2 separate regions of the Homo sapiens genome follow, and region 2 is linked to region 1. The links come from fine-mapping of genetic effects on gene expression. A gene starts in region 1. The other region holds a variant in brackets. All regions are shown on one strand. Distances are from middle to middle. Region 1 holds the start of FRMD1 (FERM domain containing 1). Region 2 holds the start of LOC107986548 (a long non-coding RNA gene).

Region 1 (5,363 bases):
TGTCTGCTTAACTTGGTGAGGGGCAGGCCCCACAATGACGGTAACACAGATCTTCAGTGAGGGTCTTCCCAGCCCATCCCTTTCGAATAACTGGGCTTGACACATATTTGGTTGAATACAGGGTTCCTGTCTAACTGCAGACACAGGTGTGCACACACTCCAATAGAGCGTTCCCTGTCTAACTACAGATACACACGAGTATACACCCCAATAGAGGGTTCCTGTCCAACTGTAGATACGGATGCGTGCACACCCCAACAGAGGGTTCCTGTCCAACTGCAGACACAGATGCATGCACACCCCAACAGAGGGTTCCTCTCCTACTGCAGACTCAGATGCATGCACACCCCAACAGAGGGTTGCTGTCCTACTGCAGACAGAGATGTGTGCACACACCAACAGAGGGTTCCTCTCCTACTGCAGACACAGATGCATGCACATCTGATAGAGGGTTCCTCTCCTACTGCAGACACAGATGTGTGCACACCTCAATAGGGGGTTTCTGTCCAACTGCAGACACAGATGTGCACACACTCCGATGGGGGGGGGTTCTTGTCTAACTGCAGACATAGACGACTGCAAACCCCAATGAGGGGTTCCTGTCCAACTGCAGACACAGATGTGCACACACCCTGTGGGGGGGTTCCTGTCTAACTGCAGACATAGATGACTGCACAACCCAGTGAGGGGTTCCTGTCCAACTGCAGACACAGATGTGCACACACCCTGTGGGGGGGTTCCTGTCTAACTGCAGACATAGATGACTGCACAACCCAGTGAGGGGTTCCTGTCCAACTGCAGACACAGATGTGCGCACACCCCGATAGGAAGTGGCTCTGTGGTTGCCAACTTGCCAGGCCCAGCAGGGGCCACAGGAGTTGCAGAGGCACTTCAGGGAGCTCCGTCAAAAGCAGATGAGCACGATTCACCTGTTCAGAACAGGCGGTTCACTATGTTCTAGCTGCATGATCCCTCAGTTAAAATCTTACCGTGAAGTTCCGTGCAAGAAACCTAAAAGTTCCAGCTCTTATGGGGTAGGGGGCCAAAGCCCCAGCATCTTCCCCACAACAGGTCCTCTTATGACCCCTCCCCCAGCCCGAGGCACTGCTGGGGACCCCAGGAAACTACAGGACATCCCCCATTAGCTCAACTCCAGCTTCTCGTTGCTGGGTGGGGACACAGAGTCTTGGGGAAGATTTTGCCACAAACATAGATGTGGGCGTTTACGTAAACACAGAACTCTATCCCGAAGCAGACAAGAGACTCCCAGATTCCCAGGGGACTTGAACCAGGATATTACTAGCAAGTCATACTCCATTCCAGGTAGCAATGATACATTAGCTATGCAGAAAGTCATCGTTCTTCAACAAACCACTCTCATTTTAATTGCCACATTTTCATTATCCACATTAATCATTAAAATGAAAGTACCATCTCAACTCCTGTCGCCATGAACTCAACTAAAACAGGTAGACAAAATGGGGGAAAGGGAAAAGAAAAGGAAATAGAGAAGCATAGAGATGGTGACGTCTGAACACAAGACAGGAGCTGCTCCTTGGAAACCGGCTTCCTGGCGCTCTTCCCTCAGCGCTCCCTCCCGGGAAGGATGTGCTGAACCATAAACTTATTTCTCACAGCAACGTCTATCAGGGATGTTTCCTTCACAGGCCCAGTGAAAGGGCTGGCCCTTGACACCTCACAGACACCTGGCCTAAGCAGAGTGAGGCGGTCCAGGGACTTTCCATACACAGGCTGTGTCCTGAGGCTCTGCTCACCCCATACCCCTGCTCACCCCCACGGCCCTGCTCACCCCCACGGCTCTGCTCACCCTCACAGCCCTGCTCACCCCCACGGCTCTGCTCACCCTCACGGCCCTGCTCACCCCCACAGCCTTGCTCACCCCCACGGCCACCCAGGGCCCTGCTCACCCCCATGGCTCTGCTCACCCCCACAGCCCTGCTCACCCCTATGGCCACCCAGGGCCCTCCTCACCCCCATGGCTCTGTTTACTCCCAAGGCCATCCAGGGCCCTGCTCACCCCCACGGCCACCCAGGGCCCTGCTCACCCCCACGGCCACCCGGAGCCCTGCTCACCCCCACAGCTCTGTTTACCCCCACGGCCACCCAGGGCCCTGCTCACCCCCACGGCCAGCCGCAGTTGCTCCCGGCTGGGCAGCAGCACGAGGACATCCCTGTGTTCCGAGGCCATCGCGTCCATTCCCAGGGTCGGCTCCTGCTGACTGCATGCAGGCCTCTCAGGACTGGGTTCCATACATCGCGCCCCTGAAGGAGGGAACGTGTCAGGGTTTGTCCGGGCGGGGTCTATGCCCCTCCCTCTCGGGGGCACCGCCATGCTGTCGTTACTCGGCCCTCCCCCGCCATGGGTCGCAGGTGGGTGCTCAGCACCTCCCAGATCACAGCTGTGCTTTCCGGGACCCGCCCTTGCCGAGCTTCTCACTGGGAAGGGAATTGAGAGGGAAGCCTGGGCTGGGAATCCAGCATGGCCAAGCCAGGACAAGGGTCAGAGCTGCAAATAGCTGGGTGTGTGGAGGGCGCCAGGAATGCAAATAAACAACCTCAGGCTGGGCACCCGCCATGCAGCACTCCCATGCAGGGTAGCTCAGCAGCCAGCCTCGGTGTGGGCCCCGTGAGAACCAGGCTGGGGGAGACAGGACCCAACTCCTCCACCTGACAACCCCTATCTCCTCAGGGTGCCTGCTCCTTCTTCTATAATGTGGAGAGGGCTATGCAAACCCCATGGGCACAGATGCCAGAGCCAGGGCTGCTGGGGAAGATGGAGCAGCAGCAGGGCAGGACGAGGAGGGCGGGAGGAAGGCAGCCTGGGTGGGCACCCTGCCCCACACACCTCCTGTGGCATCTGTTATCGACCTCAGGAAGCAGCACAGCTGCCGTTCCTGGACAGGTTCTGCCAGGAGGGACCCTGGCTCCCTTTAGGGGCTGGAAACTGAGGACACTTCCTTCCTTGTCCAGGGCCAGCAAATCCCTTCCTGCCTGCAGCAGCTGGAAGGCCAGGAAGGGGGTCCTGGCTTGCGTGGACAGCAGCCGGGTGCATCAGCACGAGGGGTGGGGACATCTCCCGCAGGGCCTGGAACCCCTGAGGCCGCTCAGCAGAGATGAGCAACGCCTTCGAGCTCTTTGGCACAGTGTTAGGTGGGGAAGGGACCCCAGGATCCTGCCTGGCCCTGGGACCACCCAGACCTTTGGGCGCTGCAGGTCAGGAGAGGCAGTTCCCACGGGCCTGGGCTGTGGAATTCTGTCCTCAGCCGTGAGCTCCATCAGTTTCCTGCCATGGAGTCTGGGATGCTCTGGGACCTTCCTCTAGTAAGGGGTCTGGACCTCCGGACGGGCCGTTGTTCATCTTAGGAAATTCGCACTCCAGCCGCCTTAAGGCCTGGCCCGGTGGGTTTAGGAAATTCGCACTCCAGCCGCCCTAAGGCCCGGCCCGGTGGGTTGAGAAGATTTAGGAGGCTTAGGCCTCACCTCCCCCGGACCCTGGACTGACACTGGCTCCCTCCCTCCCTCCCTCCGCTCAGATCCAGACCCTTCCCAGACCCTCGAGGCCACACATGTGTGCCCAAGACAGCAGTGGCGGTCTCTTTTCTCTCCACAGCAAACGTAGAGCTGTTCACTATGGAAGATGTGGGGATCCCTTTAGCTGAGAGCACAAAAAGTTTTAAAAATGGCAAAAAAACCACAAAAAAAAACAGCCCCAGAGAGCAGAGGCTGGATCCTCATGGCCCTGTGCCACTGGCGCCTGAGCAGCTCGTCCCTGTGCCGGGTGCCCTCAGCCGCTGCCTGGAGTCACAGTGCCGGCGTATCAGGAAGGGCGGCAGCAGCTGCACCTCTCAGGATGCCTGGGCGCAGGACAGTGGCAGAGGGCAGGCAGGGGCCAGGGTTGGGGGGTGGCAGAACACCACCGGCACACACAGCACAGAGGGGACAACAGGCACCAGGACCCCTCGGTGGGGAGAGCCGGGGACACGGTGGGGAGTTGTGCTGGGTGCACTAATGATCAAAGCGATGGTTCCCCACGTGTGTGCAGGTGCTGGTGTGTGCGGGCGCTGGTTTGTGCGGGCGCTGGTGTGTGTGGGCGCTGGTGTGTGCGGGTGCTGGTGTGTGTGGGCGCTGGTGTGTGTGGGCGCTGGTGTGTACAGGTGACCGTGGGCCAATGAGCTCCAAACATCATTAGTGAGAAGAAAAGGAAAAGGAATGGAAACTCCACATTTGTATTGATAAACACAATAAATGGATTCTTGTCAAAGCAGGACGTCCCTGGCCCCAGCTCCTTCCTTCCCACCCAGAGTCTCAGGGCCACACCGTTGAGGTTCAGACCTCCAGTGAAGGCCGCCGTCCATCTGAGTGCCAGGGAGAGCTGGGCTTGGGAAGCCCCCGTTGTATTCCTGGGAGAGCGCGGCTTTTTCCTGAAAACGTGCTGAGGCTCCAAGGCAAGGGTGGTCGCCATGAGTACCTCCCGCCAGGGCACTGAGGGGACACCAGAACCTCTGTCCTCAGCTCATCAAGAAGACAACTTTGCACCCTGAGAAGGCAGAGGCGTGACCGGGCCCCAACACTGACCCCACCTCTGAATGTCTTGTCTTCTCGACTGGCCTGTTCGTGATGGAAGAGGCTGGCCTGCCACGTTCGTGATGTCAGGGCCGGGCAGTGGACGGGCAGAGGCCGCGAGGAAGAGGAGACCACCGCCCAGATCTCCTCATGGCTGAGCCCTGGAGTCCTCCTCGGCCCAACTCTCTCTTCTTCTGGACGGCTGGTTTCCATCCTCTATCATGAGATAGATAGAGGCCTGCTGAGAACATTCTAGAACTCAAGCTTCGGAGCTCTAGGTCCACAAAGCACAGGTTTTGGAAAACAATGTGGGAATGCTGTTCCGTGGTGAGAAGGAAGGCAGAACTGACACAGGCACAGGACTAAACATCCCACTGCAAGGGAGAAGCTGGATGCAAAAGGCCGGGCTCCATTCCGAGACATCCAGCAAAGGCAGCATCTTCGGGGCCAGGGAGCTGGCAGCAGGGACTGCAGAGGGGCGAGGTGTCCTCTGGGGGTGGTCGGATGGCAGTGATGGCTGCACAGTTCCTAAATGCTCTGAAGTTTATGAAACATTTCGCTTTAGAGGAATATATTTTACAGTATGCAAACTATATCTCAATAAAGCTGTTAAAATACACAAGTTATAAAACAGTCACGCAAAAAGCCTTCAAGATACGGCAGGAAGTGCACCTGTGCGCCATAGGTCAACCCATTCCACCATGTGGGCGTGAGTGTGAGACACGTGGGTGCTGTGTGAGGGTGTGCCTGTGTGGATGTGAGTGGGCACATGCTTGCAC
Region 2 (5,363 bases), 22 kb after region 1:
GGAAGTTTGTGTCCTTGGGAAGCCACTGTACTTTTAGAATACTGAGCCTTCCAAACAGACACCTTGTACATGTCAAGAAAATGACCCTATTGCTTCTAAAACAACAAACAAAATTGTGAAACATCAGACAAAATCTGCATTGTAAACAACCTTGCCCTGCCACCTCTCCCAACACCGACTTTAAAAGCTTAGAAGCCCCGAGTGACAGCGTGGATAAGCAGACCAGCTCTAGTGCCTCCTTAGCTATGCGAGGCAGTCGCTGTACTTGCAGGAAGTGACTGAACCCCTGCAAGGCCGAAGCCCCTCCCTTAGCAGGGGCCGAACAGACCTCCTCGCCGGGAAAGCAGTGATCTGTGAGGCTGAGTCTGGGAATCCCCCTCTCCAGAAGAAATGAGATGCAGCCGCTCTCCAGGTGCTTAGGAGGAGCTGTGGGGTCTCAGCGGAGGAACTTCACCAAAGACAGTCAATGCAGAGCCGATACGTCCTGGCTAAACTGGATCTCCGTGGCAGGCGGCCCCGCCTGGCCTGGCTTTCGGGGAGACATTTCCTGCTGCATCCTGCAGAGAACACCCTGCGGTCCTCAGGTTCCTGACTTCCTTAGTCTTCTCGGGGCCTAAGGTTTCCTGAGTTCAAGTTCAAGTTCATATCTGAAGGGGTCTGACAGGCGCCAGGCCAGAATCCTGGATAACTGGCACCCCAATGACCACTCGGCTGTCTCTGGAAACTTCTCCATGGGTCTGGACCCCCTGCTCACCTCCGGGGTATGTGTTCCCAACTGTGGAGCTCATACAAGCCCACCAGGCCATTCTAGCCATGCCCAGAGACTGGAAGGGGCCCTGTAATGCACCCTGAGTCTCAAGAGGCCTCCCCATTGTGTGACCAAGCCCGGGGTGCCTGGTGACCTCTTGTGCTGCAATCCTGGGCACCAGAGAAACCTTCTAAAGCCCACGGGGGATAAAGGAGACACAAATGATGCTGAGTGGGGGACGACTAACAGAGCCCCCTGTGCCCCCGGCCAACCAGGCTGCACTCCCCGCCCCACCTGGAGTGGCTGGTGCTGGGGACGGCTCCTCCCCAGCTCCCGTTCTGTCTGCCTCTTTCTGCAGAAAGACAGACTACACCTGCCCTGGCCCGCGGGAGCACATAGGGTAGGTGAAGGCACAGCCCACTTTGGTTTTCAGTCGTCTTTTCCTTAATACTTAATGGGGCAGGGGGTGGGGGAGGTGGGGCTGGGGCGGGGAGGTCCCACAGAGGAGGGCTGAAGTTCTGAAGAGGCATGGGTGGGGAGAGGCGGCATGGGTCGGGGGAGACGAGATTTAGGGCCACCCAGCGACGGCGCCCCTTCCCCACCACCCCTGCTCAGTCTACTCAGGAAACATCACCACCTAGGCTCTTCCAGACCCTTCCGGACCCTTCCAGACCCTTCTGGAGGTCCTGCTCCCACGTTCGCTCACCTCCTACGCCAGCCTTACTTTCAAAGACGGGAGAAAGGGGGAGCTTTGGACGACCTCATGGAACAAAGGTGAGGATGTCTTCACTTTGGTAATTAAATGCTTAGATGTCATTTTGTGACCTGATGTCTGTTCCTGCCCCTGCAGCACACAAATCACTCAAACCTGCACCCTGGCCAGGGTCTGCACCTCCTGCTCCGAGCACTGGCGGTACCTCATCTCGGGTGCCAGCCTTTTGGCTCTGGAAGCAGCCACAGCTAGGACTGCCGCTGGGAGAGGAGAAAACTTGGTTTGTAGAAGGCAGGAGCAGAGCCTGACTCCAGGATCCTCCAGGCCTGTGTGGGCACCTTTTAGGGTCCAAAGCCCTCTAGAAACACGCTCCAAAAACCAAATTCCAGCCCACACCAGGGTGAGGGTGGGGTGGGGAAGGGCGTAAAGGCAGGCAGAGCTTCCGATTCCCTTAGCCAGCATCTGCTTCTGAGCGCAGAGCCGCGGGGAGGGCAGACAGGAGGCTAGGGGAGGGGACAGGGGAAGGGGGGGGTGTTGGACTGGAGGGGAGGTGGGGAGAGATGGGGGAAATAGCGGGAGGTAGGGAGGAGGTGGGAGGAGGTGAGGGGGAAGTGGGGGCGGGGGGGTAGGGCCAGGGCTCCTTCCAGAAGGCAGGCAGGGTGCACTTAGCCCGGGGCAGGGACCCCCATGGGCCGGCGGGTCCTCCTAGACCCGCCTCAGTCCTGGAAACCCCGAGGGGACGACAGCGGAAGCCGCCTGGGCCCTGCGCTCTGGGCCCTGGGGTGCAACCCCTGAAACTCGACAGTTAGCGCCACTCCCCGCCTCCGGGGTCCCCTCATCTGGTGGCGGCGGCTGGAGAAGGGCGCACCCCGCCCGCGGAGACCCACGCGCTCACCTTCCGGGGGCCGAGGTCCGGCTCGTCGTCCGGCTCAAGGCTCCGGGCCGTGGTCCCGCCGGCGGTGTAGAAGCGGCCGCCGCTCTTGTGCCCTCCGGGTGGGACCACGTGGGGAGGCAGCGGTGACCCCGGAGGGTGACGCGGCCCGGG[G/C]TCCGGATTGGCCGGCGCCGCCCGCCCCCTCCCCGCCCAGCCGACCCTCCCCGGCAGGAGCGCGGGCCGTGCAGGGTCTCGGGGGTCGAACCGTCCTGGAGGTCACACGGCCCCAGAGTTGCCTGTCCCAGGGGTCGCCCAGTCCGGAGGGTCGCTCCATCCCCGGGTCACACGTCCCCCGATTGCCCGGCCCAGGGCTGCAGCATCCCAGCCTTGCAGAGGCGATCGCGCCACCCACCCCAGACGGGCCGCTCCCTGCGCGGACGCACCGGGTTCGGCGCCTTGCAGGCTGCTGGCGACCCCGCTGCCGGGTTTCTCCCCGGACCTCACGGCCTGGACAGCACACTCGGAACGGCGGCATGCATTTGAAGCCATCGCTGCCTGCGTTGTCGGTGGATGCGGTGGACCCGGGGCGGGCAGTGCGGAGCGCGGAGGGGAGACCTGCCCTGGGGCACAGTGGCGGGGAGGGGATGGTCCTGGGGTTTGCATGGGTGATGGGACAGTTCCAGCCCCGAGAGCGGGAAGACGACGCGGCGGTGGAGCTCTAGGAAGGGATGGATGTTATCACCGTGCAAAACCAGACCACCGCCCAGGAGGGCAGTTGAAGCTTCACTGGCCCAGGGCGATTTGCCCCGTCTGAGGGTGACATTTGGGCAGACACCTTTAGGAACGAGGGAGGAGGCCTCTTGGATATTTAGGGGGAAGTCGGGGGTCCCAAATTGAGGACCAGCAAGTGCAGAGGCCCCAGGCACGCTGGGGGCTGAGAGAGAGCAAAGAGAGGGAGAGAGGGCGTCATTCCTGACCCCTGAGGCTGAGCTCCCAGAACCCAGCCTTGGCTGTGTTCTGAGACTCTGGGGAACCAGGTTCCAGGCCGCCCAGCATCAGGGCTCGGGGCGTTTCTCTACCGTCCTGGTTTGGATTTCTCCTTCCCCTTCCTCCCCCTGCCCCAGGCCTCATATGTTCCCAGTTTTCCTTCAGTGCTGATCTTCCAGCATATAATACTATTTAGCCATTCATTTTGACAGCCTCCCCCAGTTAGAATTTAAGTGCCAGCAGGGCAGATATTTTTTATCTGTTTTGTTTACTGCTGAAACCCAAGCACCTCCAAGAGCTGCTGGCACTGGAGAGTTCTTGGCGGAATGAATAATTCATGTATCAGGGCCCAGATCAAATACAGCAGCTCAGGTAGAGTCCTCCCACTCCATTCAGTCATGTCAGCGCACCTGGCACCTTGCCTTAGGGGAAGTAGCTCCTACGTGGATTTAATTCCCTTCTCCTCCTCTTCCTTCTGCACTCCAGCAGGAACAGAGCAATGCACCATTTAAATGAAGGTGGTTCATGCCATCCACACACTTGCACAATAAGGACAACTGGGTGGCAAAGAGCTCGAGGGTTGAATCAAGAGGTCACAGACCAGCAGGAGCCAGAAACTAAGACGGGCTTGATGTTGTGGTGCCTGGGTGTTGTGTATCTGCCCTGGGTGATTTTTGCTTTTTGTTTATTTATAAGCTGGTAGCAGACAGGTGACGACTTCTGTATTCACCTGCCCGGGTAGTCTGGAAGCAGCCTCTTCGTCACACCTTTCACCCAGGCAGTGAGCCCACTCTTGGTCCACTCTGATCTCCATGGGGCCCTTGCTCAGTCATTGCGTCTGGTCCTGTGCTCTGTGGAGATGGACTTGGTCCTCCACATAGCCCCGGATGACAGCCTGCCTGCTGTTTGGAGCTGGCTGTGATCTCATCTTTGAATCACATCTCAGCGTTGCCTCTTTCCCTTGTAGACCTCTTTATTCTCTGCATTGCCACAAAATGACGTGCATGTGAGTATTACGAGGTTACTTTGTGAAAAGGGTGTTGAAATAACAGGTATTGCTGATGTCCAGTACATAAGTGTGTCAGTGTACGCAGAGTTATCACACATGGCAGCAGCGACTTGATGGAGAGAGCGAATTGGGATTTAACTCAGGAGCCTCTTCAGTGTCACAACGACTCGGCAGCAATGGCCCTGCCTGGTCTAACTTACAGGACACACAACTCGTCAATCCTCATGTGTCCAGAAGGTGCTAGAATGACAGCTGCTGGTGCTGCCGTGATGCCACCCACCTGGAGACGTGGTTCCCTGGCGTGAGGGGACGTTTTATGTGACATTTGTATAATAAAACAGCAAATGGCTCTTGACTGTTCGGATTGGGAGTTTAATGCTTCTTTCTCCCTAGAAAAAGATAAAAAATTTTATGCCTGGGGAAGAGGAAGAGGAGGAGGACAAGGATATCACTTCAAATTTTAATGGAGAAGACAAGGAAGACAATTTGAAAAAACCATGTTTTAATATTTACAGAGAAAAGTGTCTGGAGGGAAATATATTAAAATACATCAAAAGGAGTAAGATGTCCAGGTTTTTTTTGTTTTTGTTTTTTTTTTTTTTTGCTTGTTGATTTTTAAAAACAAATAGTTATTTGTATAATAAGGATTAACAAAAAAAAAATGAAAACAACCTTGCTGAAAAGTAAATGTTTTAATTCTAGGAAACAAGGTGGTTTCCCTGTGTTTGATTTCTGGCTGCAAACGGAGCAGAGCTTTAGGACCAGGAGCCAGCAGCCTGGCTCTTCATACCTGCTGCGGCCAGGAGAGGTGCAGCCTCTCACTGTCAGTCATCTGGTCTCTAGCAGCTTCTTGAGTAACTCGCCCCAAAGCACCTGTGTCAGTTTCTCCTCGGGGAGCGCTCCTGCAGTAAAATTTGGCCCCAGGTGTGTTGTATTTTGTTGCTTTAAAAGGCTCCCATTGCCCTTCTCTGAACGTCAGCTTTGTCTTTGGACCACACCCGCCTGAAATCCATGTTCCCGACACTGGCCTTGGCTG

What was found. PIP is the estimated chance that this variant, and not a neighbour inherited with it, causes the effect. A credible set is the group of variants that fine-mapping cannot tell apart.
Region 2: its variant is the best candidate, but not a certain one, in a credible set for the expression of FRMD1 in tibial nerve (GTEx, PIP 0.89).

Annotation. Positions count from the first base shown.
Region 1 is chr6:168,076,742-168,082,104 of GRCh38, forward strand. It overlaps FRMD1 (FERM domain containing 1), which reads right to left and starts at 2,471. Exons shown (of 11, transcript NM_024919.6): 1 at 2,141-2,471. The coding sequence starts at 2,353. RefSeq lists enhancers at 1,462-2,183, 5,112-5,363.
Region 2 is chr6:168,099,070-168,104,432 of GRCh38, forward strand. It overlaps LOC107986548 (a long non-coding RNA gene), which reads left to right and starts at 235. Exons shown (of 3, transcript XR_001743903.2): 1 at 235-761; 2 at 1,107-1,148; 3 at 1,390-1,855. RefSeq lists an enhancer at 162-663. The variant G/C (reference allele first, on the strand shown) is at 2,506.